Homo sapiens: one gene and its partners. The protein of the gene in region 4 purifies or fractionates together with the protein of the main gene of each other region. This does not show direct contact. Each region holds a gene or a part of one and is shown on either strand. Other genes may lie near its edges.

Region 1 (4,674 bases), on a different chromosome or scaffold from region 4:
TGCACACCCTTCGATGGATGGTCAGAATTGTGTAAAAAATAAAACACATTCTTTGGGTGGCAATAGGGTGATAGCAAGCAATGTATATATATTTTTAAGAGTATTTTATTCCTTATACAAAATACATTATCTCAGGTACTCTTGTTGTTCTGAAGTTCTCTTAAATGAGCAAATGATAGGCCAGACGTCGTTATTTTGGGCTTCATATATATTTTTTAAAGCCAGGTGATTTTTTTTTTTTTTTTTTTTTTTTTTGAGATGCAGTCTCACTCTGTTGCTCAGGCTGTAGTGCAGGAGGCACGATCTTGGCTCACTACAACCTCCGCCTCCTGGGTTCAAGTGATTCTCCTGCCTCGGCCTCCCAAGTAGCTGGGATTACAGGCACATGCCACAATGTCTGGCTATCTTTTTTTGTATTTTTAGTAGAAATGGGGTTTCACCATGCTGCCCAGGCTGGCCTCAAACTCCTGACCTCAAGTGATCTGCTCGCTTCAGCCTCCCAAAGTGTTGGGATTCCAGGTGTGGGCCACCGCACTCAGGCCAGGCGATTTCTTGAATACAGCTTTCAGAATGTATTTATTGCAAGGACTGATACTGTAGGTGGATGACAAGGTCAGGAGATCGAGACCATCCTGGCTAACACGGTGAAACCCCGTCTCTACTAAAAAAAACCTAAAAATCAGCCAGGCGTGGTGGCGGGCGCCTGTAGTCCCAGCTACTCAGGAGGCTGAGACAGGAGAATGGCGTGAACCTGGGAGGCGGAGCTTGCAGTGAGCCGAGATGGCGCCAGTGCACTCCAGCCTGGGCGACAGAGCCAGACTCCATCTCAAAAAAAAAAAAAAAAAAAAAAAAGATAGATTGTGTAAGCCTTTATATAGATTACTAAGTTAAAAGTTTATTTTTAACCTATAATGAGAAATGCATGGTGGGGTCCTGTTAAAAATGTGCATTCTAAGTTCGAAGTCATGAGAATTTTATTTTCTTTTCTTTATTTTTGAGAGGGGGTCTCACTCTGTCGCCCAGGCCGGAATGCAGTGGCGCAATCTCGGCTCACTGCAACCTTCTCCTCCTGGGTTCAGGCAATTCTCCTGCCTCAGCCTCCCTAGTAGCTGGGACTACAGGTGCCTGGCACCACGCCAGGCTAATTTTTGTATTTTTAGTAGAGACCGAGTTTCACCATGTTGGCCAGGCTGGTCTTGAGCTCCTGACCTCAAGTGATCCTCCTGCCTCAGCCTCTCAAAGTGCTGAGATTACAGGCGTGAGCCACCGCGCCCAGCTGAGAATATTATAGTTTCGTTTCTAAAATTGCTCCACAAAGGAAAACCTCCCATCTTAGGGAGATTTTCTCTATCTTTATTTAAAATAACCAAGAAAAGCTTCATTTAAAATGTTTTAGAACATTCTACTTAGTCATATGACTTTAAATATAGTTTGATAAATAGTTTGTTATGTTCTGTATATGTTAAAGTCTAATTGAAGTAGCTTTGTCAAACACTGAAAGTAAGGGCCTCTTAATGACTGGTAGTAGAGGAAAGCCTTGCCACACACAGTCCACGTAATTATTTTTGTGTGGACATATTGTAAACCCCTACCAAACAGATTATTTTTTTAATCCTATTTGGTTAGGTCAGTTATGAAGATGTTTTAATTTTCTGAGCAAAAGTGTAGTTTCTTTAAAAATATATAATTCTTTTCAGCCTGTTTGTTGAGGCTTCGATAGACAGAACGTAGTTGTTGACAGTTTCAGGAGTCTCGTGAGATAGTAGAGCAATAGAGTCACATTGAATAACCCTTGGGATCATATAGGGCTTAGGGAGAATGGCATTGTTTGAAATTTTTTTTGTTGTTTTATTCTCCTACTTAGGGATTTACTTTATAAAAGTGGTAAAACATACTCAGTTTGTTACAAGTCAGATCCACTACCACAAATTCCCTTTAGTGGGCACACTTTTAAGTGTAGGCCCACTTATTTTAAGCAGCGTTTAACTGAGTGAAAGTCTAGTTTCATTAAAAGATCTGTTGATGTGGGTTATAATAGAGTTTGACTTGCATTAGTATCTAACTGTTTCTACTGAGACAGTGGTATTTGTGTTATTAACTTTTGGGAAAGAGGGAGTAGGGAATGATTTAGACATTAAATGTATTCCTTTCTGCCAGGCATGATAGTGTGGAGATTGAGGCTTGAGGCTCGATAACTTGAGCCCGGGAGTTCGAGGCCAGCCTGGGCAACATACTGAGACCCCATCTTTAAAAAAAAAAAAAATTATACACACACAAAATGCTTGGAATAATTTGTGTATTTTTTATCTCAAGTTTGTTTCAAATACTCACATTTCTGGACTATTTCCCCTATTGTTAAGTCTGCTTAATAAATGCCAGCTAGTTTTTATGCCATCAGAAGTGAAATTAAGAAGGCAGATGGACTAAAAGAATCACGTATAAGGGATTTTGAAGTGAAATACATTAAACTCTTGATTACTCTTAAACTATCCACTTTAACGGGTTCTACTTGGACCTTCTTGGTGGCAAGGCCATCTCCTCGGTGTAGGTTATGTGTCAACATTTTGTTCCATTGGCTGTTTTTCAAGTGTGAACTGTTATTTGAAAGGAGAAGGACACGCCAGGGGAGAGCGTGTGAACTGAATACTCAGTGATTTCCTTTAGCCCCAAGGGAAGGATGTATCTAAACACAAAAGCCCTGTCTTGCCGAGGGTTGGAGAGGGATCTGTGTTTCAGTGACTGGTCTGAGAGGAGATGGTTGCCATTTATCAGTAGGAGTCAACAAAAGGAAACTTAATACAGCCCGGCACAGTGGCTCACGCCTGTAATCCCAGCACTTTCGGAGGTTGAGGTGGGTGGATCCCTTGAGGCCAGGAGTTCAAGACCAGCCTGGCCAACATAGGGAAATCCCATCTTTACTAAAAATAAAAAAATTAGATGGACGTGGTGGCTCATGGCTGTAATCCTAGCTACTGAGGAGGCTGTGTCAGGAGAATAGCTTGAACCGGGGAGGTGGAGGTTCAGTGAGCCCAGATCGTGCCACTGCACTCCAGCCTGGGCCACAGAGTGAGACTGTCTCAAAAAAAAAAAAAAAAACCCAAAACTTAATAGCTTGTGTTTGAAAGTAGTTGCAAAACGCGACACCCTTGTTAAGAGTGAGTATGGCAGACACGTGGGGAGTGCCTTTGCTGCTGCTTCCCTCATTAGCACAGATACTTTGGAGTTGACGAACATGTGACGTTTGAAATTGAACGTATGCTTTCATTGAACATTGTACTTTTCCTGGGTCTTTACTAAGGAACATTCCTCATATACTAGACGAAATTGTATCAGATGCTTTCACATCACAAATAGAGCCATTTTGTATTTGATGTTTTGCTTTCAAAATTATGCAACAGTATATTTTGTTTTAACAGAATATAAATAATGCTGGGTAAGAAGAGTGGCCAACTGCCCGATAAGTTAAAATTCCAGTGAGAGAGAACTAGGAAAACTGAGCTCTTGAACAGCTCTGAAAACATTGCGTTGAGGTATCTAGCAATGTCATTTATTATGAATTGTTAGTCAAAACCTGTTTATATGATTTTTCACAGTGGTTTTATACCTAAAAGGCATTGGATCAAGAAACAAAGTTATTACAATTTGGGTCTTCTCTAATGAATTACCCTGTCCGTGTTTATTTAAGTGTAAATGAACATACAGTTATGTGCTGCTTTAATGATGTTTCAGTCAACAACAGACCGCATGTACGACAGTGGTCCCATAAGATTATAATGGAGCTAAACAATTTCTAGTGACCAGTGAGTTGTGTTACAGTTGCCTACGGTATTCAGTACACAACATGCTGTACGGGTTTGTAGCTTAGGAGCAATAGGCTCTAGCATATGGCCCAGGTGTGTAGTTGGCTATACCATCTAGGCATGTGATCCCACAATGACAAAATTGCCTAATGCCACATTTCTCAGAACATATCCCCATCATTAAGCATGGCTGTGTATCCTAAAACTGATCTTTATTTTGGCAGTTTATAAATCATGCATATATTTCCCCCCGCTCCTTGGGGGAAATGGTTTCTCAGATATTTTGCACTTCCTCTTCAAACTCTGAAGTACACAGGCAGTGGTCATGCGGCGTGATCTAAGTTAAAAAGGCGTGGCACCTGTTTACCGGGATCCACCCTTGTGGACTGAGAGTTTAGTCCACATCTGATTCGATGTTTGTAGCCTCACATTTATTATACATCTTTCCACTTCAGAAACATAAGTTGATCTGTAGTCAATGGGTAGTGGTACATTTTGGTCACTTTGCTGTCCTCCACCTGGTTAGATAACCAAGATAGTGTGTGTTCTTCCAAATTGATGGTAATGAGGAAAAGAAAAGCACTTGGAGAATGTTCTGGACAGTTAGAATGATGACAGAAAAGCAGGTCAACAACACCAGAATGTCGATTACGGGCCAGTTATTGAGCCCTAAGAATCAGAGTTCTGTACCTTGCATTTTCAGGGATTTTCAATGTTAATATGACCCCTAAGTCCTAATTTTAGGAAAACAGAATTTGATGTGTAAAATATGTGTAAGAATAATCATAGCTTATGATGACATAAAAGTTTACGATGCTGGTATTGCCTTTGAGTTGATAAACAATTTCAGTGGGCTGATTTGTGGCAGCCCTTG
Region 2 (4,674 bases), about 16 Mb from region 4:
GTCTATTTAAGATTTCTCGTAAGTTGACATAATTGTTCTTATGAGCAGCTATTTTTTTGGTGAAGGTTTTTTGGCTTCTGATTATAGAATGATTAGCCATTAGCAGCTTTTTAAAAAGAATTTCTCATATCTTGCTTTATTTGAAGTATTTCAGGCCAGGTTCCATGGCTCACGCCCGTAATCCTAGGACTTTGGGAGGCTCAGGCGGGCATAACATTTGGGGTCAGGAGTTCAAGACCAGCCTGGCCAACATGCTGAAACCCCGTCTCTACTAAAAATACAAAAATTAGCCGGGCGTGGTGGTGCACACCTGTAATCCCAGCTACTCAGGAGGCTGAGGCAGGAGAATCACTTGGACCTTGGATGCAGAGGTTGCAGTGAGCCAAGATTGCGCCACTGCACTCCAGCCTGGATAAGAGTGAGGCACAGTCTCAAAAAAAAAAAAAAAAAAGATTTGATTTGAGCCTGACAATTCTAGGTCAGAACATTTTTATTGTTAAAAACAGTAATTCCAGTACATAGTCAAATCATGACTGATTTTTCCCCCTAATATTATTGGAAAGTGAGCATTCCATACAACTTGATAATTTTAGCCTTTTTCGTAAAATTTACTTTGATGTTGCCATTGTTTAATTAGCCATTTTTTTGTTCAGTACTCTGATGTTTTTTCTGTGATCACTGAGGCATTTGTCAGGCTGTTTGCCACAGCCTTAAAAGGTATCCGTACTTTTGCTTCCTTTTTATTTGTTCAACCTTGGAAATTTATAGTTTTTCCAGTAAATACTGCCTTTGTAGAAATTAATTTTAAAACTTTCAAATTTTCCCTCAAAGTTTGTTTCAAGTTATTTTGACTATTTTTAGTAAACTGGTGGTACAGAAGTTAATCTGGTGACTAAACTGTGTCACAGGTGATAATTTAACCATGAAGTCTGTCAGATTTCCTTCCTAAGTCATAAACTAGCTACTAAAATAACTGTGTTACAAGGAGTTTACAGTCCTGTCTCCTATCCTTGGGGTGGAGATTGGTTCCAGGACCCGGCCATGGATATCAAACTCTGGGGATGCTTTAGTAAGTCCCTTAATATAAAGTGGTGTAGTAACCTACACACATCCTCCCTTATACTTCAGATCATCTCTAGATTACTTATAACGCCTAATACAATGTAAGTGCTATGTAAATAGTTGTTATACTGTATTTTTGTTAGTGTTTTTATTGTCGTATTGTCTTTTTTTTCCCCAAGTATTTTTGATCTGTGGTTGGTTGAATTCACATATGTAGAACCCAACTGTATTCATTTGGGAGAATGGAGAGCCAACTGTATTCATTTGGCCTTCTTAAGTTCTCATATGCTGTTTAAAGAAAATCATTTCTGGCCGGGCGCAGTGGCTCATGCCTGTAATCCCAGCACTTTGGGAGGCTGAGGTGGGCAGATAACGAGGTCAAGAGATCGAGACCATTCTGGCCAACATGTTGAAACCCCGTCTCTACTAAAAGTACAAAAATTAGCTGGGCGTGGTGGCGCACACCTGTACTCTCAGCTACTCGGGAGGCTGAGGCAGGAGAATCGCTTGAACCCGGGAGTCGGAGGTTGCAGTGAGCCAAGATTGCACCGCTGCGCTCCAGCCTGGCAACAGAGCGAGACTCCACCTCCAAAAAAAAAAGAAAAAGAAAAGAAAATCATTTCTATATATGTATCTAAGTGTAAGCCTGTATGGTAAAGTCTTAAACTTTCCTGGATTAATTTAAATTTTTAAGGATTATCAAAAAGTTAGTAAGTAGCATTCATGATCATTTAGATGAAAAATGTTAAGCCCAGTCTGGCTTTACTTTCCATGGTTCATGCTGATCTGTTTCCGTTGCCATTGGAGTTATATGCTTTAAGAAATGAAATATAATTTTTGGTTATTTAGGCTGTGTGCAGTGGTTTACAACTGTAATCCTAACACTTTGGGAGGCCAAGGTGGGCTGATCACTTGAGTCCAGGAGTTTGAGACCAGCCTGGGCAACATGGCAAAAACCCCATCTCTACAAAAAAAAAAAAAAACAAAAAAAAAAAACCACAGGCAAAAAGCCAAGGGTGGTGGTGCGCACCTGTAGTCCCAGCTATTTGGGAGACTGAGGTGGGAGGATCGCTTCAGCCTGGGAGGTGGGGGTTGCAGTGAACTGAGATGGAGCCACTGTACTCCAGCCCGGGTGACATAGCTAGACCCTGTATCATTAAAAAAAAAAAAAAAAAGGTTATTTAAAAGAAAATGTTACCCAAAGTCAGTTTTACTTTTAGTTGCTCTTTTGCATTTTTGATGCCATTACTATCTCTTTTAGATAGGTAATCCAAAATGGACTATTTTAACAACAATGTCTTTAAGTTACTTGCTTGGCTGTGCGGTTTGTATGATTACAGTTCAACTTAGAAAGTGTTCTCCAATAATGAGTTGCTCTTAATTTAATGGAATTGCTAAGGCCTAATATTACTATAAACCAATTTGGTAGTGAGTTTGCATGTTTATGTTATACAGGTTATTATCTAGTAAGTGAACACTTTAATTCATATGGAAATGATTACTGGACTTTGTTTACAGAAAGCCACAAAAAAAACTGATAAACCCAGACAAGAAGATAAAGATGATCTAGATGTAACAGAGCTCACTAATGAAGATCTTTTGGATCAGCTTGTGAAATACGGAGTGAATCCTGGTCCTATTGTGGGTAAGTTGATAAAATTTCAAATACAGTATCTTTTCTCTGAAGCAGGACCCCAAATTATTTTCTCCTTTTTGTTTAGCAGTTTAGGTTCCAAGGACTGGTTTGTCATTAATCATTTGTTATCAGCAGAACCTGTGTTTCTTTGACTGTAAATGAGTGAAATAAAATGAGAGGATTGAATTAGATAATCTCCAAAATTACCTCTATTGTTGAGATTGTTTTATATGGTGCTTATATCGTACTTTTTTTTTTTTTTTTTGGTTTTGTTTTGTTTTTTGTTTTTTTGAGACGGAGTCTTGCTCTGTCGCCCAGGCTGTAGTGCAGTGACGCGATCTCGGCTCCCTGCAAGCTCTGCCTCCCGGGTTCATGCCATTCTCCTGCCTCAGCCTCCTGAGTAGCTGGGACTACAGGCGCCCGCTGCCACGCCTGGCTAATTTTTTGTATTTTTCAGTAGAGATGGGATTTCACCGTGTTAGCAAGGATGGTCTCGATCTTCTGACCTTGTGATCCGCCTGCCTCGGCCTCCCAAAGTGCTGGGATTACAGGTGTGAGCCACCGTGCCTGGCCACTTATATCGTACTTCTGCTGAGACGTGGGTCTTGTATGACAATTGAGGAAAATCTGAGGTAACATAGCTGGGCAAATTTGCCCAAATAAATGAGTTAATGGCCGGGCGCAGTAGCTCACACCTGTAATCCCAACACTTTGGGAGGCCAAGATGGGAGGATTGCTTGTGCCCAGGAGTTGAAGAACAGCATGAGCAACATAGGGAGATCCCATCTCTGCAGAAAATTTTAAAATTAGCAGGGTGTGGTGTCACAAATCTATTGTCCCAGCTACTTAGGAGGCTGAGGCAGGAGGATTGCTTGAGATGGTGGGGGGAAGTCAAAGTTGCAGTGAGCCGTGATGGCTACTGTACTTCAGCCAGGGGCAGTGGAGCAAGACCCTGTCTCAAAAAAAATAAATAAATAAGGGAAAAAGAAAAAGTGAGTTAGTGACAGACTTCTTCTTAATGAAGTTATTAAATTCCTAGCCTAGTACCCTATTTTTTTTTTTTTTTTGAGACGGGGTTTCGCTCTTGTTGCCCAGGCTAGAGTACAATGGTGTGATCTTGGCTCACTGCAACCTCTGCCTCCCAGGTTCAAGCAGTTCTCCAGCCTCAGCTTCCCGAATAGCTGGGATTACAGGCACCTGCCACCATGCCCGGCTAATTTTTATATTTTTAGTAGAGATGGGGTTTTGCCATGTTGGCCAGGCTGGTCTGAAACTCCCGACCTCAGGTGATCCCACCCACCTCAGGCTCCCAAAGTGCTGGGATTACAGGTGTGAGCCACCGCGCTGAGCCCCTTTTTCATTTATCATTAAAAGTACCCTTTTGAAAGTCCTATCTTGATTGGAATTGAGGAATTATACCCTTAAAAAACAAAAACCTAGGACTAAATACACTGGATTTCCATCGTTGGATTACTTTTAGGTGATGAAGATTTTGCAGTGTTGATTATGCCTTAGTTTTGGAGGGTCTTAGCAATAACCTCAAGATGAGAAAATTCCATTTTATTATTATTTTTTTTTTTGACAAGGTCTTTGCTCTGTTGTCCACGCTGGAGTGCAGTGGCACAGTCATGGCTTACTGCAGCCTCAGCTTAGGCTCAAGCAGTCCCACCTCAGCCTCTCAAGTAGCTGGGAACACAGGCACGTGCCACCATTCCCGGCTAATTTTTGTAGTTTTTGTAGGGATGGGGGCACACTATATTGCCCAGGGTGGTCTTGAACTCCTGGGCTCAAGCAGTCCTCCCACTTAGGCCTCCCTAAGTCCTAGGATTACAGGCATGAGTCACTGCATCTGGTCTTGATCTTCTAAGTTACCTAAAATTGTGGACGCTAGAGATTTGGTAGGTTTTGCTATAGGTATAGTTGCAAATAAAGATTTAGAATATTTTGTTTTAATGTATAAGCTGCTTCCAAATAAT
Region 3 (4,674 bases), on a different chromosome or scaffold from region 4:
GAAGAGGCGAATTTTGGATGATCTTGCCTGCGTCTGAGTACTGACTCCTCCACTCACTGAAAGTCACTTTGGCCAAGTGACTTCGTGTTTTTGTGTCTCTGCTCCCACACCAGTAAAATGGGAATAATAATAAGATATCTTGATGGACTGTTGTGATAAATGAGAAAATCAGTGTAAAGTGCTTGGAGATGTGCCTAGTGCAGAGTGGGCACTTGCTGAATGTTAATTATTTGTATAACTTGCTGGTGTGGGAAGCCTGACTCTTCTCCGGCTGGAATCCCACAGGCCTGCACAACAGTAAATGGCCCCGCTGCTAACCCCCAAGATCTATAGTGAATACACAGGGAGGATGGTGAGTTATATCCTTCTGAAAGTGGCTCAACTGTGCCACAGAACTGATGTTTATGATTTCTTTGGAATAAACGTCGAAATTAACTCTCCTAGTCTTGAAATTCGAGAAAGTTATATTTGTCTTATCTGAGTTCCTTTCTCAGGAAACCAACCATCAGGCATCTCCAATAGTATCAAAAAGCCAGCAGTGGCTCATGCTTGTAATCCCAGCACTTTGAGAGGCTGAGGTGGGCAGATGGCTTGAGCTCAGGAGTTCAAGACCAGACTGAGAGACATGGCAAAACCTCATTGAAAATACAAAACAAATTAGCCAGGCATTATGGTGTGTGCTTGTAGTCCCAGCTACCTGGGAGGCTGATGTGGGAGGATTGTCTGAGCCTGGAGCTGGAGGCTGCAGTGAGCTGTGATTACACCACTGCACTCCAGCCTGGGCAACAGAGCAAGACCCTGTCTCAAAAAACAAAAACAAAACCTGAAGCTTACCAGACCCCTTACCCACCATGATGCCTAACCAACCCCCCGCTTCCTGTTGACCAGCTCCTCTTCCTCACCCCTCCCTAATTCCTGTTTCCCACACATGGTTACATTTCTTCCCTGCTATAAAAATCCCTAATTTTAGTAGGCCAGAGACACAGATTTGAGACTTATGTCCTGTTCCCCTTGGCTGTAGCACCCAAATAAACTTTCTTCCTTGGCTATGCTTGTCTCAGTGATTGGCTTTCTTCTGTGTAGTGAGCAATAAGCCCTGGACTGAACCCCTGGCAATTTGGTAACTCCTGAACTTAGACTGCATGCAGCAGCCATAGAGCTCGTAATCCCTAGAGCCTTCTGGTTTCACGAAACCACAGTTGCAGTGAACAGAAACATCTCGTTCCGGCTGCGGCAGACACCAAGCTGAAGTCAGCCCCTTCCCTGTGTACATCAAGTCCATTTGGCTCCAGGGAGACAGGTTAGGGTGAGCAGTGATGTCTGTACTACCCAACAGGCCCTCTCCATTGCTAAGCAGAAGTAGATTCTGTTTGTTTAAAATTACTCGAATTTCCTATAAAATACACTTGGGTCGTTTCCCCAAGCAAAGCAGCTCTCACATGGTAAAAAAAAATCAAAATGGTAAAAAACCTATCTCTCACCAAATCAAAACAAATCCTTGGATTTGCTATTCCTAGCAATGTTAATAGCTCATATATAAGAAATTCAACATAGCTATAATAAAATTCTTTCCTGTGTGGTTGGAAAAGAAAACATTCTAGATTATAATATATTTTGGTGGATAGAAGTTATGATAAATGCCTCATGCAGAAATACCAGGTGGTCTCATAAAAGACAATATTAATGAGATGTTGAGTGATCCCTTATCATAAGGGAGTCGCAGCACCTCCATTCATTCAGTTTTCTGAACATACTAATTCATCAGATTTCGTTTGTGTCTCCTCTACACAAGGTTAACATCTGAAACATGAGGGTTTGGTTGTGCGTCACATGGACACTGAGAGACAAGCAATGCCAAGCAACAGGTTCTTAGCAAACAGAATGAAGAGTTCGCAGCTTTTATGTACATATATAGTCCTCAACATGATTCAACTCACCTTTGCTTTTAAGTTTTTAAAATTTGGGTATCGTGTAGAAAATTACTAAAATAGTTAATTGATTTTCCATTAGACTTCTCTTCTTCCTAAGCAAATTCTATGTAGGTTTGTTAAGATGTTGCAAAAGGAAAAATATTTTCCCACTCTGAAAGTGCAATTGGATGCTCTCCCCAAAGTAAAGTTAACCCACAATCCAAAAGGCGCAGGAGCCACCTTCATAGGGCAGGAAAGCGTGCTCACCATCTCTGTGATCTCAGCGATGTCCTCTCTGTGCTCCCAGCTGGGAAACATATTGGTGAATGTCAGGGGCTCCAGACCAGCGTGGATAAGGTAAGACTTGGGGGCTGGTTTCTTGAGATTTTTTCCTGTAGTTACACAGATTGCAATGTCAGTAGACCCCAGGGAGACCCTGTCTTTCTCTGATTTCCCTTGAAATCTTTTCTTCTTTGCCAGAACTCATGACTTCATGCTTAAAATGCAAGTTACCAGTAGTTCATAACAACACATGGATAATGTTTATATAAGATGTTTGTTAGTTTCATGCCTGTGACTACCATAGTGACCTATAATCAACCTGAGTCTATACTTCTTGAACCTAACAAAACGCTGTGTATTCCTGGAAGGGAGAGAGAGGCTCTGTCTGCAGCTTCTGGGTGGAGCATTTTCTTCCTCCTGAATTCACCTGTAGAGTCATCCGTCTCATTTCCTAGCACAGGATTAACTCCCATAATGACTGACGGCGAACGACAGCATCTTATACATCCACATTCACTATAACATTGAGTGGAAGGTTTCATATGTTATTTATTGCTAAAGAGTTTTTCAGGAAGAGAATCCATTGCACATACTCAGTGACATTAAACTAGTTGTGTCAATGAAACCATAAAAATTAAATAAGATTAATTACTGGCATTTTCATTTTATATAAAAGACTAGAAATTTCATGTGTATAGTAAAGAACCATGAACTTACTATGGGTATTTCTCTTTGGATATAATACTAAAAATAATAATGAATAATAAAAAGGTTGGCAATGGCCGTTCACTGTTTGGGGGAGACCTCCATTCTCCAACAGCGTGGTAGTGCTTGCAGATAATGTACAGGGCAGAGGCCAACTTGTCTCTCAGCATGATCAACCCCGAGTACAGCGGGGTTTTAATCTGCCTGGGGCATTCCACAATACAGCCTTTATCCTTGAGGGTAACAAGTTAGCCTCATAATATCAGAGAGAAAAACTAGTTCTTCTTCATGCTGGCAGCTGAGAATGCGCTAATCTAAAACTTAATACATCTCAAAAAGTTAAAGGGGAAAAAATTGGTTTCATCACCACCTGCCAGGCTTTATGGATGGATGCTGGCTGACATGCACAGAAGGGGAAGGGGGTCTCCTGGCTGCGCATGCCTGAGGGGCTTCCCCATCTGTTCCGTGCTGCAGGCATGTTAGAGGGAGCCTCACCTTTGCAGTACTGGAGCACAGTCTCCATCGCACTCTTCCGGTCGGAGGCCCAGCGGATGCGGGCGGAACCAGTGATCTTGTTCTCGATGGGCCACCAGCCTTGCCAGAGGTACACCTCGTGGTGATTGTCAACAAGGAAAAGTGCTGTGAGGGCAGGGACAGGGCCAGACCATCAGGAGCTCCTTCACGGACACTTCTAGCTCACTCCTCCCCCAACCTAGTGGATGTTGTCCCTCTTGACTGCAGTGTCACAGGGGGAAACCCCCTTGGCCATCAAACCAGGGGCAAAGGGGCAAACAGAGAAACCCAGGATACCCCAGCCCTTTGACAGTTCAACGGGGAGAAGCCTGTAGGCAGAGAGAAGTGGTGTCAAGGAGTTGGTCTTTTTCATTCCTCGTCCTCCAGGTCCTCCTCCCTTTGCCCCAGCTCAAGGCCCTGGCCCTTCTGGATACTGGCAGGGCTGTGCTAAGAGTGGAAGGGATAATGCATGTGCCACTCAAGGGGCTGTTAGCACCGCATATCTCCAAAGAGCACAATCAACACTGGAGCGCACATCTCACTGCAGACAGGTCAGTGGCGTTCCTGCCCTGCACGCGATTGCTTAGCAGTGAGGTGAGCTCATGGCTCTCTTACAGAGAAATGGGCCTTAAAAAGCAAAACTGCCACCGGGAGTGGTGGCTCATGCCTGTAATCCCAGTGCTTTGGGAGGCTGAGGAGGAAGGACTGCTTGAGCCCGGAGGTTGAAGACCAGCCTGGGCCACATGATGAGACCCTATCTCTACAAAAAGAAAAAAAAAATTAGCGAGGCATGGTGCTGCATGCATGTAGTCTCCACTACTCAGGAAGCTAAGGAGAGAGGATCGCTTGAGCCCAAGAGTTAGAGGCTGCAGTGAGCCATGACTGCGCCACTGCACTCCAGCCTGGATGACAGAGTAAGACCCTGTCTCTAAAAAATAAAATAAAAGGAAATAAAAATCAAAACTGTTCTACTGCCTTTTCCTCCTACCTTTTTCTCCTCCTCAAATTGTCAGTCTGACTCTTACTCCAGGTGGCAAAATGCCTCTCACTCTTGCTAGTCGGCTCACTGTAAGTCCTTTCCTGACATGCATTTCAGGATTCTGTGAAAACCACACTTTAAAAGCCCAGTGGAGGTTGATAACCCGCCCTGAGCCCCAGGATGAAGGGCGTGGGCACACCCTCTCTTACTGGTGGCTGATTTTCCAAGCATGACATGTGCACTGGGCAAACTTTCAGTGCTGCCCTGAGATCCCGGTGCAAGATG
Region 4 (3,385 bases):
GTTGACTTCTCTCCTGCCCCCACCTATCTCCCCCCCCAAAAAAAAAAACACAACAACAACAACAACAGAACATACCAGGGATTCATGGCTTGCCCAATGTTGGAGGGGGAGAAGAGAGGAGAGGGATGAGATAAGCTCCTCCCACCCGGCTGACTCGCTGTGTGTCTCTTTTCTCACCCCAGGGCCTGGCCATGTCCCCTTTCGGAAGCCTGTTCCCTTACCCCTACACGTACATGGCCGCAGCGGCGGCCGCCTCCTCTGCGGCAGCCTCCAGCTCGGTGCACCGCCACCCCTTCCTCAATCTGAACACCATGCGCCCGCGGCTGCGCTACAGCCCCTACTCCATCCCGGTGCCGGTCCCGGACGGCAGCAGTCTGCTCACCACCGCCCTGCCCTCCATGGCGGCGGCCGCGGGGCCCCTGGACGGCAAAGTCGCCGCCCTGGCCGCCAGCCCGGCCTCGGTGGCAGTGGACTCGGGCTCTGAACTCAACAGCCGCTCCTCCACGCTCTCCTCCAGCTCCATGTCCTTGTCGCCCAAACTCTGCGCGGAGAAAGAGGCGGCCACCAGCGAACTGCAGAGCATCCAGCGGTTGGTTAGCGGCTTGGAAGCCAAGCCGGACAGGTCCCGCAGCGCGTCCCCGTAGACCCGTCCCAGACACGTCTTTTCATTCCAGTCCAGTTCAGGCTGCCGTGCACTTTGTCGGATATAAAATAAACCACGGGCCCGCCATGGCGTTAGCCCTTCCTTTTGCAGTTGCGTCTGGGAAGGGGCCCCGGACTCCCTCGAGAGAATGTGCTAGAGACAGCCCCTGTCTTCTTGGCGTGGTTTATATGTCCGGGATCTGGATCAGATTCTGGGGGCTCAGAAACGTCGGTTGCATTGAGCTACTGGGGGTAGGAGTTCCAACATTTATGTCCAGAGCAACTTCCAGCAAGGCTGGTCTGGGTCTCTGCCCACCAGGCGGGGAGGTGTTCAAAGACATCTCCCTCAGTGCGGATTTATATATATATTTTTCCTTCACTGTGTCAAGTGGAAACAAAAACAAAATCTTTCAAAAAAAAAATCGGGACAAGTGAACACATTAACATGATTCTGTTTGTGCAGATTAAAAACTTTATAGGGACTTGCATTATCGGTTCTCAATAAATTACTGAGCAGCTTTGTTTGGGGAGGGAAGTCCCTACCATCCTTGTTTAGTCTATATTAAGAAAATCTGTGTCTTTTTAATATTCTTGTGATGTTTTCAGAGCCGCTGTAGGTCTCTTCTTGCATGTCCACAGTAATGTATTTGTGGTTTTTATTTTGAACGCTTGCTTTTAGAGAGAAAACAATATAGCCCCCTACCCTTTTCCCAATCCTTTGCCCTCAAATCAGTGACCCAAGGGAGGGGGGGATTTAAAGGGAAGGAGTGGGCAAAACACATAAAATGAATTTATTATATCTAAGCTCTGTAGCAGGATTCATGTCGTTCTTTGACAGTTCTTTCTCTTTCCTGTATATGCAATAACAAGGTTTTAAAAAAATAATAAAGAAGTGAGACTATTAGACAAAGTATTTATGTAATTATTTGATAACTCTTGTAAATAGGTGGAATATGAATGCTTGGAAAATTAAACTTTAATTTATTGACATTGTACATAGCTCTGTGTAAATAGAATTGCAACTGTCAGGTTTTGTGTTCTTGTTTTCCTTTAGTTGGGTTTATTTCCAGGTCACAGAATTGCTGTTAACACTAGAAAACACACTTCCTGCACCAACACCAATACCCTTTCAAAAGAGTTGTCTGCAACATTTTTGTTTTCTTTTTTAATGTCCAAAAGTGGGGGAAAGTGCTATTTCCTATTTTCACCAAAATTGGGGAAGGAGTGCCACTTTCCAGCTCCACTTCAAATTCCTTAAAATATAACTGAGATTGCTGTGGGGAGGGAGGAGGGCAGAGGCTGCGGTTTGACTTTTTAATTTTTCTTTTGTTATTTGTATTTGCTAGTCTCTGATTTCCTCAAAACGAAGTGGAATTTACTACTGTTGTCAGTATCGGTGTTTTGAATTGGTGCCTGCCTATAGAGATATATTCACAGTTCAAAAGTCAGGTGCTGAGAGATGGTTTAAAGACAAATTCATGAAGGTATATTTTGTGTTATAGTTGTTGATGAGTTCTTTGGTTTTCTGTATTTTTCCCCCTCTCTTTAAAACATCACTGAAATTTCAATAAATTTTTATTGAAATGTCTTTGGGCCTTGTGTTAAATGTTTTTTCTTTGGGAACCTTTCCTGAAGATGGACAGTCAGGGGAGGGTTTAGTATCTTCTTGTTCTGAGTTTACCCCCTTCCCTTCGCCTTTAAATAATTAAGACCGCCCCCAGCGAACCAAAATGAGATGTCACTCAAGTTACAAAGCTAAAAACAAAAGTCCCTTACTTGAGCGAAGGGAGCCACTTCAATCTGAAATTACTTTTCCTTTAAATTAGGGAGCAAAGCAGGGAGACGGAAAGGGGCCTGATGAGAATACAGAAAGAAGGGTAATTTCAGATACTTTTAAGTTTTAATGGAAAAAGACTGATGTGCTCCCTAAGTCAGGTTTTCCCACCCGAATCCGACCAAAAGTAAGCTCGGCAAGTACGAATGTTTTTCGTTTTAAGCTCGCCCTCAGTTTTGACATCAATCTGGCGAATCCAAGTCGAAAATACCTTCTTGCACCAGTGTGTTTGGCTCGGGGAAAAGGCCAGCAGAATGCCCCAGCAGTCCGAGCGGGCTTGGCTAGGCAGCAACCCTCCAGGTTGTAGAAGTGGACAAGACGCAACGCCTTTCCACTCGGCAACCCCCCACACAGCCTGCAGTCCCTGGTGCCTCAAATTGAACCCGGCTGGCCCAAGGCGCCCCTACGAGGCCCCATCCATCCCGAGTTGTGCGTGCAAAGCGCGGCCAGCTCCGCGAAAACTTAGCTGTGTCACGCGAGGGAGGAGGGAAATTATCCCCGAAAGGGGAAAGGTAATTCCAGGGTGCACATTTCACCCCCTCCACGGCAAAAGTCACCCAGGAGGCTGACATCCTCCCCTAGTCTCCCCTTCAAACCCGTCTCCAGGCTGTTCGGGGAGTTGCCTTTTGAAGTTCAATTTATCTTTGAAACATTCAATAAAAAATGATGAGGCACTGTCAGTCTTTTGGTCTCCCGACCCCCAGCCTCGCCTCCGAGGTGTGTGTCTGTTGGGGGGCGGGGGCGGCACGGGAAGGTTCGAGGGTTAGTCCTTAGCCCTTTTCTTGCCCTGGGGGCCATGACGTGAAGACCCAGCTGGAGCCTGCCTGGCGGCTGCCTCCCTCCCCACCCCCCACCCGCCACCCCCTGGAGCCCGCCAGCCCGGCCCCAAGTCCCTGTCACCTTCAGGCC
Region 5 (4,674 bases), on a different chromosome or scaffold from region 4:
TAAGGCAGAAGTGATACATGTATCTCAACTTTGAACTTTATTTGATGTACTATTCAAAGATCTCTTTCTGGGGATGTTGACGTTGATGAGAGCCTTTGTGCTACTGGATTACAAATGGTGTGCTCAAAGGGGGTAATAACTGTGTGGTCTGTCCTACTCAGCCGTGTAATTGAGCACTGGCTATGTGTCTGGCAGTGTGTTAACAGGCTGTCATGAGTGACAAAAGGTGTGCATAACACAGCTCCTGTCCTCAAGCAGTTTGTGTGCAGTCTCCTCAGTGGGTGACATGACAGAATGACTGCAATATTTAAAGGATAATGAAATTCAAACTAAAGTAAAATACCAATGATGTTAAATGCAATAATGCATTCAGAAGAGAGAGGTCATCATAGCTTTGGATGTTAGGGAGGCTTCATGGTACAAATCACACATGCAGCAGAGTTTCAAGACTAGGTGGGTTTACAAAGTGTCCATTGACAGATGAATAGATAAAGAATACGTACACACACACACACAAACACAGACACACACACACAGGAGTACTGTTCAGTCTTAAAGAGGGGAAATCCTGTCATTTCAACATCATGGATAAACGTGGAGGACATAATGCAAAGTGAAATAAGCTAGGCACAAGGCATAAGCTATGCATGATCTCACTTCTTATGTTGAATCTAAAAAAATTGAACTCATAGAAACAGATAGTAAAACAGTGTTTGCTAGGGTGTAGGGGTGGGGTGAATGGGAGAAGGGACTGGTGAAATATTGGTCAAAGCATACACGATTTTAGTTAGGCAGGATGAATAAGTTCTGGGGATCTCATGAACAGCGTGGTGACTATAGTGAAAGTATAACTATTATATGCTTGAAATTTGTGAATACAGTATATTTTAAATGTCCTCACCACACACAAAAATATAGACTATATGAAGTGATGGATATGCTGATTAACTTGATTGTGGTAATCATTTCACAACGTACACATATATGAAAACATCATGGTGTATACCTTAAATATATACAATTTTTATTTGTCCATCATAACTCAATAAAGCTGGGAAAAAAAGACTAGGTGCATTTTGAGTAGGTAGAAAAGATATTTTTGGGTGAGGTACTGCCTGTCTTTAATGGCATGGAGACTGGACTGTGGAGAGTGTATTGAGGGACGGAGAGGGCCTGGCTGCTGTGGAGGATGTGTGCATGTCCATTGTGGGAGGTAAATGGAACAAGCGAGGTTAGGCTCAGATATAGATGGTTTTGCATGACTGGATTAGGAATTTGGACTTAATTCACAGGCACTGTAAATTCCTGAATGAGCAGTGGAGTGCTGAAGGAACAATTGAGGGAGGAAGGAGATTTGAATTGAGAGGCTAATTGGATAGTTATGTGTGTGGGAGGTAAGCTAGGTATTTAGGAATTGTGGCCCAACCTAGGTGAGTGAGAGGTGTGAGGAGGATAAATCAGGGACAGGAGAAACGTGATAGGATTTAATGGTTAATATTTACAGGTGTTGGTGTAGAAGAAAGAATTAAAGATTCCTACAAGGTTTTGTATTTGGGTAACTTGTTGAAATAAACATGTAACTCTTCTGGGCCTTTTAAAATAGAAGTTTCAGGCTTTTAAAGTTCGTTTGCTTTTGCATAATAATTAAATATTTAAATACCTTAGAGTAAGGCCTCCTTTCCTTTAATAGCATCTGTTTGAGAGTAGTGAGAAAGACTTGTAGACTCTTGTAGATCCCAGTTCTCCCCTTTTATATGGGCTTACATTGAGCAGCTGGAAATAGAGGTGGGAGGGGGGCCTACTTTAAAATATCATTGCTGTCTCTCAAGAGTTAACTTTATTTCTGCAGAGGAAAAATACCTTATTAGGAGTGATGGCCATGCCCAAAGAAATAAATCTCAGAATATTAGAGATAGAAGACATTTGGAAGCTAACCATATAAAAGATTTGAAAGAAAGCAAAACAGAGTTTAAGCTTATGATTGATTGTGTTTTGGAGACTTTCCAGTACCATCATGTATCTATAGATTAATGACTACATTGGTCGAGAGAATTTCTAAATGGCTGAGTCTTGATTTAAGTTTGAATTGAGTGCCTTTGGGAGACTTTAATTCATTTTTGTCCAACCACTCACTGAAAGCATTTGCTTAGAGCATTCAGAGATGGAATAGAGGGAATTTATGTTAACCAAATATAATTATTTCTTCTTTTACATCGCTTTCATTTGATTAATGGGGCAAGATTACTTTTCTAGTTGAAAGAAGATGTAAATAAGTATGAAATTATTTTGTTGCAGAATATGGCTCAAGCCTGGAAGATGACGTGGTGGGGGACACTTCAGGGTACTACCAGCGGATGTTGGTGGTTCTCCTTCAGGTATTGCGTGGAGATTAATTACAGTTTGATTAAAAAGCCTGAAGTTGGACTGGGCTGAATCTAGTTAAGTAAGGTCACTTAAAATTCTTTTAATAATTTGTGGTACTTGCTGATTCTTACTGCGATGATTCTGACTGTATGTTGCCTGTGCTTGTTTGTGTTTCAGAATATCTGGTCTAAATTCTTAACAGCTAACTCATACATGTTTTAGATAGTAGTATCTTGTTCCTTTCATAGAATGATAGCGGTATCTTGTTCTTTCATAGAATTTAAAATCAGTAGGGTCATTATTGGTTTTGGACAGTGCTGGGTGATGATAACGTGAAATAGTGCAGGATTGATCTTAATAAAAGCATATTATTCCTAGAGAAAGAGTGTTATTGAATAACCATCAGGTGGAACCATTTTTCCTTTTGAATGAGAATGCTCTATAGTTCAGTAATGTGACATATTACCTCTCATAGGCTAACAGAGACCCTGATGCTGGAATTGATGAAGCTCAAGTTGAACAAGATGCTCAGGTGAGTGACACCAGGATATGATGACTTTATTATGCTGTAGAAATGAAGAAATAATTCATGGTAATGAAAAATCACAATGTATGTTGTAATAGCTTCTAGTGATAATCTTGTTAATGGGTTATTTACATAGCATAAGACCTACATAAGTAGCTTTTTCTTATTCTGACCTGGTCAGCAAAATATTTTACCTTAAAGCTGAAACGAAATAAAATAAATTATATAGTGAGTTCCAACTAGACATGTTTTTTTTTGTGATTATTGAACATTCACAAAATAGAGAATTTTACCAAAAAACAGTGTTATTACTTCCACTGCCAATTATGCAGTGGGTCTCTTAGCAGGAGAAGATAAAGAAGAAAGAATAAAGTATTTAACAGTAAGTGGTGTTTAATTACATAAGAGATGACAAGTTATTTTGGTATTAGGAAATTTCTCTGCATTTCCTTCGACAGAATTTTAAGTAGGATTGGTCTTCTGTCAGCAGCTTTTTAGTGACTCCAAATGAAAATTTCCTCTTAAGTGACTTATAAACCCCTATAAAGTCTCAGTCTGGTTAATAAAACAGTTATTAAAATATAGGAAAGGAAATTTGAAACATGAGAGCTGAAAACTGGAAATTGGTAATAAAGGAATTACTTGGGTTCCTAGAACCACCAATCATAGACCTCTTTCTGGTCACATGTTTCAATTAAGAGAATATACAATTCTTGGTTGTTTGTCATGTATCATTGAAAAAGGAAGAGCCATATTCATTCCTCCAGTGGAACAACCCATGGATATGCGATCTCACTTTGCTAACAGGAAAGAGGAGAGCGGTTATTCTTTTGGGTAGGTTGATTTTATAATGGTTTCAGAATGCTGTCATCTCTGTCTAGCTGGAGAGAAAAAAAGAACTGAATGTTTACCGAGGGCTCTCTGTGCAGTATTTGACTCTTGCTTCACTCTGTCTTAGAAAATGCAAGCCAATTGTGTCCAGCCCCTTCAGACTCTGGTGGTTCCATTGCCCTCAGGATAAAGTCCGGGTTCCTGAATGGGTTACAAGCCCCTTTGTTATCTGTGTGTTGTTTACTTATGCCTCCAGCCTCTCTCACATGCTCTCTCTGCCCTCTTGCCCCTCCCACCCCGCTTCACCTGAGTCCTCTTCAAGAGTCAGTCTTCAGCTTAGATACTTTAGAGTTAGGTGCCCCTCACAGGGAAAACCATACCCCCCCCCGCCCCCAGGCTTCCTGTCACAGTTCTTGCCACGTTCTCTGGAAGCCATCTATTTACTTCACTGCCTTCCTGGGCCCCCTGAGCTGTCAGTTCAATTGTATCCTCAGCTTCTGGCATAGAGTAGGTGCTCAGTAAATAACTGATGAATGAATGAGCACATAACTCTACCAGAAAGGGGCAATTTCCCTTTTATGGATAAAGAAACAAACCCATGGCTTCCACTGAATAGCAGTGGAGTTGGAATTCCTAACGAGGCCTGTCTGACTCCAAAGCTCTTTCTCTTTCACTAGAAGATAGTCAGTGTTATTGAATATTAATATTTCACTATAAGAATATTTCACTGTAAGATATTCAGTGTTCTTGAGTATTAGTGCCTTCCCTGATTTTCTCTATCATTAAAGGGCTTATTAAATATCAACTCAAGCATAGATCTAGCTTAATTCCACCTTCTTTCGGGAAGAGGGCTAGAGCAACCCTACAGAGTTGTACTCCTGTTAGGGGCTTTGTTCAGTACTGAGGTGATCTTACTGCTTTCCAAGCATTGGTTGTGGCTTTGCTAGGAGATA

Evidence for each region.
Region 1: the proteins of TBX3 (region 4) and USP10 purify together in Homo sapiens (affinity purification with mass spectrometry, with the first as the bait; one large-scale study listed by BioGRID). This does not show direct contact.
Region 2: the proteins of TBX3 (region 4) and TMPO purify together in Homo sapiens (affinity purification with mass spectrometry, with the first as the bait; one large-scale study listed by BioGRID). This does not show direct contact.
Region 3: the proteins of TBX3 (region 4) and SVIL purify together in Homo sapiens (affinity purification with mass spectrometry, with the first as the bait; one large-scale study listed by BioGRID). This does not show direct contact.
Region 5: the proteins of TBX3 (region 4) and ANXA5 purify together in Homo sapiens (affinity purification with mass spectrometry; one study listed by BioGRID and IntAct). This does not show direct contact.

Annotation. Positions count from the first base shown.
Region 1 is NC_000016.10:84,747,326-84,751,999, forward strand, and holds part of USP10 (ubiquitin carboxyl-terminal hydrolase 10), read left to right. Parts: intron 1-4,674. UniProt on the Homo sapiens protein: Hydrolase that can remove conjugated ubiquitin from target proteins such as p53/TP53, RPS2/us5, RPS3/us3, RPS10/eS10, BECN1, SNX3 and CFTR.
Region 2 is NC_000012.12:98,525,306-98,529,979, forward strand, and holds part of TMPO (thymopoietin), read left to right. Parts: intron 1-2,580; coding exon 2,581-2,707; intron 2,708-4,674. UniProt on the Homo sapiens protein: May help direct the assembly of the nuclear lamina and thereby help maintain the structural organization of the nuclear envelope. Possible receptor for attachment of lamin filaments to the inner nuclear membrane.
Region 3 is NC_000010.11:29,460,100-29,464,773, forward strand, and holds part of SVIL (supervillin), read right to left. Parts: intron 3,537-4,674; coding exon 3,393-3,536; intron 2,303-3,392; coding exon 2,178-2,302; intron 1-2,177.
Region 4 is NC_000012.12:114,669,100-114,672,484, reverse strand, and holds the end of TBX3 (T-box transcription factor TBX3), read left to right. Parts: intron 1-182; coding exon 183-644; 3' UTR 645-2,230; downstream 2,231-3,385.
Region 5 is NC_000004.12:121,676,116-121,680,789, reverse strand, and holds part of ANXA5 (annexin A5), read left to right. Parts: coding exon of another isoform or gene 1-34; exon of another isoform or gene 35-2,295; coding exon 2,296-2,375; intron 2,376-2,839; coding exon 2,840-2,896; intron 2,897-4,674. UniProt on the Homo sapiens protein: This protein is an anticoagulant protein that acts as an indirect inhibitor of the thromboplastin-specific complex, which is involved in the blood coagulation cascade.